2 separate regions of the Homo sapiens genome follow, and region 2 is reported to be linked to region 1. Evidence: microRNA targets listed by miRTarBase, many of them from high-throughput screens and not tested one by one. Region 1 holds a microRNA gene; the other region holds the end of a gene's coding sequence.
The links. Region 1 holds the annotated microRNA hsa-miR-4330 (CCUCAGAUCAGAGCCUUGC, at 2,015-2,033, opposite strand). A microRNA usually pairs through its seed, bases 2 to 8, with sites in the 3' UTR of a target mRNA and lowers its output. Matches are read on the target gene's strand: a 7mer-m8 pairs with bases 2 to 8, a 7mer-A1 pairs with bases 2 to 7 and ends in A, and an 8mer does both.

Region 2: the mRNA of LIF is a reported target of hsa-miR-4330. Seed matches in the 3' UTR shown: 7mer-m8 at 1,752-1,758, 8mer at 1,385-1,392 and 7mer-A1 at 758-764.

The regions. Positions count from the first base shown.
Region 1 is chrX:151,167,155-151,170,330 of GRCh38, reverse strand. MIR4330 (microRNA 4330) reads right to left here and starts at 2,109; the gene lies at 2,005-2,109.
Region 2 is chr22:30,240,993-30,243,992 of GRCh38, forward strand. LIF (LIF interleukin 6 family cytokine) reads right to left here. Exons shown (of 3, transcript NM_002309.5): 3 at 1-3,000. The coding sequence ends at 2,659. Among named protein-coding and RNA genes, the nearest start is that of LIF-AS1, 3.3 kb to the left of the region's middle. RefSeq lists an enhancer at 644-1,312.

The sequences.
Region 1 (3,176 bases):
AGATGAAGAAAGTGAGGCCCAGAGAGGTTAAGTCACTTGCCCCAGGTCACACAGGTAATAAGTGGTAGAGCCAGAAGTCTAACTTGGGCAGTCTGGCTCCAGAATCTGTGCTTTAACCACTGTGCCTCATGGCTTATTTGCAGGCCACACCTGGTTCCTGGCTCTAGAGCACTGGGTCTCAAATTTAGTGCATGACAGAGCAGCCAGGAGTATTAAGAAATTGCAGCTTTCTAGGCCTTCCCCTAGAGAGTGTGACTTGGCAGGTCTGTACGGGGCCCTGGAATCTGCATGTTTCCCAAGTGTCTCAGGTGATTCTAATGCAAGCAGCCCAGGAATCCCTTCTAGAGAAATCCTGCTGTTAACTCAGCCCTGCCCCTAGCCCTTGGCAATTTAAGGATGTCTAGGTCTGTCATCCAGTGACTCCTGCTGAGTTTGCTCTTGAGGGTTTATATACTAGTCCCTGCTGGGACTTTATAAACTTGTTCTAGTGTATAAGATCTTGCTTTGACCCTCAGACTAAACCCTACCCTCTATCACAGTTCTGGTGATGGGGTTCCCAGCCCAATGCCTGATAATAACCTGACCAGCTCCCTGAAAACAGGGCAACCAGAGGCCTGACTATGGCCACCTTCCTGCTGCCAAACTCATCCTGATGGCTTGCCTGAGTAGGGTTGCCTATTTATCAAAAATACAGGATGCTCAGTTAAATTTGAATCCCAAGTACATTCTTAGTATAAGTATATTCCATGCAATATTCGGACATACTTATACTCAAAATTGTCCACTGTTTATCAGAAATTTAAATTTAGCCAGGGGCCGTGTATTTTATCTGGCAGCTCTATGGCTGCGGACCACCTGTAGCTGACCCTAAATGAGCCAAATATGAGGACTTGGCATTGGTTGGTAATGGGATTTTCTTTCTCCCCTTCCCCCGAGCAAGGGGCTCAGTCAACCCTGGGGAGCAGGAACTATTGATTCAGGATTGGAGGGGCCCAGTTCTGGCTGTCAACTTGCCATCTGCCTCTGGCGGATACTGATTTGATATATTTCCTACTCGCTTTAGCCAGCCTCCTCTGTTTGCTCAGGAGATTCATAACCCATTCTTAGAAACATGCCTGTCTCCTGTTTGCCTGAGTAGTACGCTACTGTAGAATCGCCCCTGTACGTAGCAGTTTGCAAATTGACCCCTGGCATTTGAGGAATGTACATACTGTTTTGAATTGGGCTTATATTTGAAACGACTGTGTGTTTTGTATCCATGCCATCTTGTAGGTATGGTGAGTCTCTCTCCGAACCTCAATTGCAGCTGCCCTGGAAGACTTAGCTTTTGGGGGTCCTTCCCAGGACTCCCCCAAATCAATTTTGTATATTCCATGTAACATATCTTCTGAGTCTGACCATTATAAAGCTACCTCCAAATGCAGACAACATCTATCTAGCCATTTTCACATGATGTTATAACACACGAGCAGTCAGAAAAAAAAAGTATACTTTTATTGAAATAGCTTTGTCACCTAAGCCAGAGGGTTGGGACTCCCTTATTACATCTGTATCCATTCTAGTCAGAGGGAGGCCCATGAGTGAAAGGTGGGGAATTGTGTGTACAGGAACCACCTCCTCAAGCTAAGTATTACTGGAATGGAGAGGAAAGTGTGTGGAGGGCCCAGGGGGGAGATGTGTCTGTCTGGAATATTAAAGAAGCAAAAGGACAAACTGCAATAAAACACGCTAGCAGGACCATTCATTTGGCTGTAGAGTCACCAAAGGAAATCACTGGAACTTTCTGTAAGTGGATGCAAATGAGGAAACAATCCCACACTAGCCTGGGTCGAAAAGACTCCAAGACTTCACCTATTTTTTTCATTGCTGAGGCCAGCGCCAATTTGTAAGACTTAAAGCCCCAGGGAATTAGATTGAACAGATATTGTAATTCCAGTGACACAGGGCCCACAATGAGCCCCCATTTGGAACAAACACCAAAAACACTTCCTGAGTCTCCCCTCTGGCCTGACCTGCAAGGCTCTGATCTGAGGAGCAGCTGATGAAGTAGGCGTCAAAAAGAAGCCCCCTTCCTCTCCTGCATCCTCAGATAATTGCCTGCTGACAATTAGCTAGTAGTTCTGGTGCTTCTATCCTCTCTGAAACAGATAGTTCATAGTTAAGTTCCACTTTCTAGTCAAAATTGCCTTACGTCGCCAGTATGCTTCTCACTGTCTGCTTTCTGTTCTCACTGTGTGATGAAGACATACCCGAGACTGGGAGGATAAAGAGGTTTAATTGGACTTACAGTTCCACATGGCTGGGGAGGCCTCAGAATCATGGTGGGTGGTGAAATCCACTTCTCACATGATGACAGCAAGAGAAAAATGGGAAGAGAAAAATGAGGAAGATGTAAAGGCGGAAACCCCTGATAAAACCATCAGATCTCGTGAGACTTATTCACTACCATGAGAACAGTATGGGGGAAATCGCCCCCATGATTCCAATTATCTCCCACCAGGTCCCTCCCACAACACATGGGAATTATGGGAGTACAATTCAAGATGAGATTTGGGTGGGGACACAGAGTCAAACCATATCACTGTGACACATTACATTTTCTAAAATGAAAAAACAAACAAAAAAATAAAAAAACACATTCTTATGACTTTCCTTCCACTTGGAGATGTCCTTTGGCTTTCACAGAAAACTCAAGTAGTTTGATTGGAAAGGATTTTGAGGTGATCACCAAACCCTTTCCTTCACTCCTTCCTTGCTGTCACATTCTACTGCATTGGAGAAGGAAGGCTTCTGGATCTCCAGAGAGGCAGAATTCAGCTGCCCTCCATGTGTGAGGGGTAGTAATGACCTTAGCTTCTTTCTTTCTTTCTTTCTCTTTCTTTCTCTCTTTCTTTTTCTTTCTTTCTTTCTTTTTCTTTCTTTCTTCTTTCTTTTTCTTTTTTTTTTTTAGATGGAGTCTCTCTCTGTCGCCCAGGCTGGAGGGCAGTGGCGACATCTTGGTTCACTGCAACCTCCACCTCCCGGGTTCAAGTGATTCTCCTGCCTCAGCCTCCAGAGCAGCTGGGATTACAGGCGTGTGCCACCACACCCAGTTAATTTTTGTTTTTTTAGTAGAGACGGTGTTTCACCATGTTGGTTAGGCTGGTCTCGAACTCCTGACCTCGAGATCTGCCCAC
Region 2 (3,000 bases), not on the chromosome of region 1:
CTCTTGGTAAACTCTCTCTTCCTCCGGCCAGGCCCAGGTGTGGTCCACACCAGCAGATAAAAAGGGAAGAGAAACCCAGCTCCCGGCCTGGCAGAGCTGTTTCACGCAAAGGCTCTGTGATTCAGTGATGCTGTGCAGGGTGGACGCCAAGCTGCCGGACGGGATCTGGAGGGAGCACTGAGGATGGGTCCCATGGGGCCAAGTCCAGGCTGGGTGGGAGAGCGACTCAGAGCCAGGGCCGCAAGGTGGGCCTGGCACAGAGCTCCCAAGTCCACAGGGAGATGAGGTGATGGGCGAGTCAGCCGGGCCCCCCGGGTGGAATCAGCAACTCTGGTTTCCAGACAAGTTTGTCTTTCTCGAAGCCCATCCTGGGGGAATGCAGCCAGCCCCAAGCTAAGCCGGATGAAGCAGGAAGGAGAAGGCAGTCCCTGCATCCTGGACAAGGGTGAGTGTGGCCCACATCTCAACAGCCACATCCTCGTCTTGCTGTTGGGATGGACAGATGGACAACTCCGGGCCGCACCCTCCACCCCAACCCCAGGCCTCAGGACCTGCCTGCACACTGCCCACGCGCCATCCAGGTAAAGTGCTTAGAGAGCGACAGGGAAAGGTGCAAAGTGAGTGAAAAGTACCATAATTAGTACCATCATCTTGTCGGAGGAACTTGGAGGCCGGCAGCCCGCTCAGGGTTTGAGAAGAAGCCAGAACACTGCTCTGAGCAGCTGCCCCAACTCTGCTGCCTCCTTCCCTCCCCTGCTCTCAGACTGGAGGGCGTTTCTCCACTCGCCTGGCCCCAGCACAAAGGAAGAGATCGGGTTCCCTGCCTGGGAGCCCAGACATGGGTGGGAGTGGGATGGGGGTGGAGCAGGAGGGCCCACAGCTTCCTGGTCTGAGTCCCAGGCATCTGCAGCCTCCCTCTCCTCCTCTTGGGAGCAATGGGCAGCTGATCCCCCCAGTCTACCCCACCTTCCTGGGGTCTGGCCCAGCCAGGCCCCCCGCACCGTCTATGGGTGTCCGGGCCACAGGAGGAGCTTCCCTGCTGTGTCGGAGCATGCTGGGTGCAGGGGCAGGGTTGTTCCAGGGCGCTATTTCAGAGGCAGCATGGGGACACAGAAACAAGGACAGGGTGGGCCACAAGGACTGTCTTGCCCACTGCTCCAGGGGGCACAATATCTGCCAGGAACAGTGCGCCTCACAACACAATGCTGGGGCGCCCAAGAACAGTGTGAACCAGCCCCCTGGAATCAAGACAGAAAGGCACCCGGCCTCTCCACAAATTGGCCCAGCCCCTGCAGCCTGGACCCTGACACCCTAAAGCAAGTCACAGTAGGGGATGGGGGGGGGTGGAGCAAGGCCCCCCACTCCCACTCAGGCCTCCCCATTCTCTCAGATCCGACCCTTCTCTGAGCTTCACCCGTAAGGCTTATTCCACTTGTAACATTGTCGACTTCCAGACCAGGCCCTGCTAAGCCCTGGCCCTGGCGCTTGTGTCGGGAGCCATCATCATATTTTGTTGAGTAGGGACCAGGGAAAGGGGAATTAACTTGGCCACTGAAAGCACCAATAAGTTAATATAAATAGGATATCATAATAAATAGAAATCATGCCAGGTCAGACGCACAGCACGCTTGGAGCTCAGGGTTCCCTGAGACCCTGACCCTAAGTTCTGCTGTTCCCTTGCCCTGGGGACCAGAGACGGCCTCCAGTCCCCCTCAAGTACCTCTGTGTGACCTCACAAGGCCTCCCAGGGCCTCAGATGTGAGCTGCTACTCTGAGCTACCCCAGCCCCTTCTTACAGACCTTTACCCAGAGGAAGAGCCTGGGTCCCTCAGAACCTCTGCACCTGACTTAGCAACCTGCCCCTGCCCTACCCACCTCCACAAACCCCTGCTGCAGGTCCAGCCATCAGACCCTGGCCATCCCAGGCTGCAGGGAAGATCACGGGGAAGAGAACGAAGAACCTACCAAAGCTTTCCAGGCCTCTCCTCCTCCCAGTGTCTTCCTTCCCAGGCCTGAAGGTGGCTTCTCTGCCTCCCCAAGAGCCTGAATGCCAAGTGACCTCCTTCTGGAAACTTCTGCCAGATTGTTCCTATGCCCAAGTTCTCTGATCATCCTCAAAAGAAGACAGCCTTCCATCCCAGAGGCCCCTCTCTATCTTCCACTCATCAAACTTCTAGGGGACAAGGAGTCCTTTGGGATCCTAGCCCCTCTGGCCCACCTAAGTCCCAACCTAAGGGGCAGCAAAGGCACAGATGGTGATAATTTGCTGGGGGCTGGTCCACTCCCCTGGGCCCTGCTGTCTCACCCTGTGGTCAGGGCTCTTGTAGATGACTTGTGTAGTTTGTTCACTGCACAAAGTGAGCAAGGGGCCAAAGGGACAAGTAGAGGCAGAAGTCCAGCCCACGCTCCCCAGTCCACAATCTCCCAGAGGAAGGGGCACCTTCTTCTAGCTCCCTCCCTATGGAAGTTTCCACTCTGCTCAGCTTCATCACAGCCCAGCCCAGAGTGGAGTGGACTGGCCAGGCACCCTCGGGGTCTGCCAGCAGCCCCCATTTGGGTTTAGCGATGCCCTGGGCCCCAGCCACCCTTGGACAGGCCCCCACATCTGGACCCAACTCCTGAGATCCCTCGGTTCACAGCACACTTCAAGACCTCCTGCTAGAAGGCCTGGGCCAACACGGCGATGATCTGCTTATACTTCCCCAGGAGTTGACAGCCCAGCTTCTTCTTCTGGAAGACATCCTTACCCGAGGTGTCAGGGCCGTAGGTCACGTCCACATGGCCCACGTGGTACTTGCTGCACAGGCGGCACAGCACGTTGCTAAGGAGGCCTCGCAGGATGTCGGCGGTGGCGTTGAGCTTGCTGTGGAGGCTGAGGGCACTGGGGTTGAGGATCTTCTGGTCCCGGGTGATGTTGCCCAGGGAGGTGCCAAGGTACACGACTATGCGGTACAGCTCCACCAGCTTGGCCTTCTCCGTGCCGTTGGCGTGGAAGGGCGG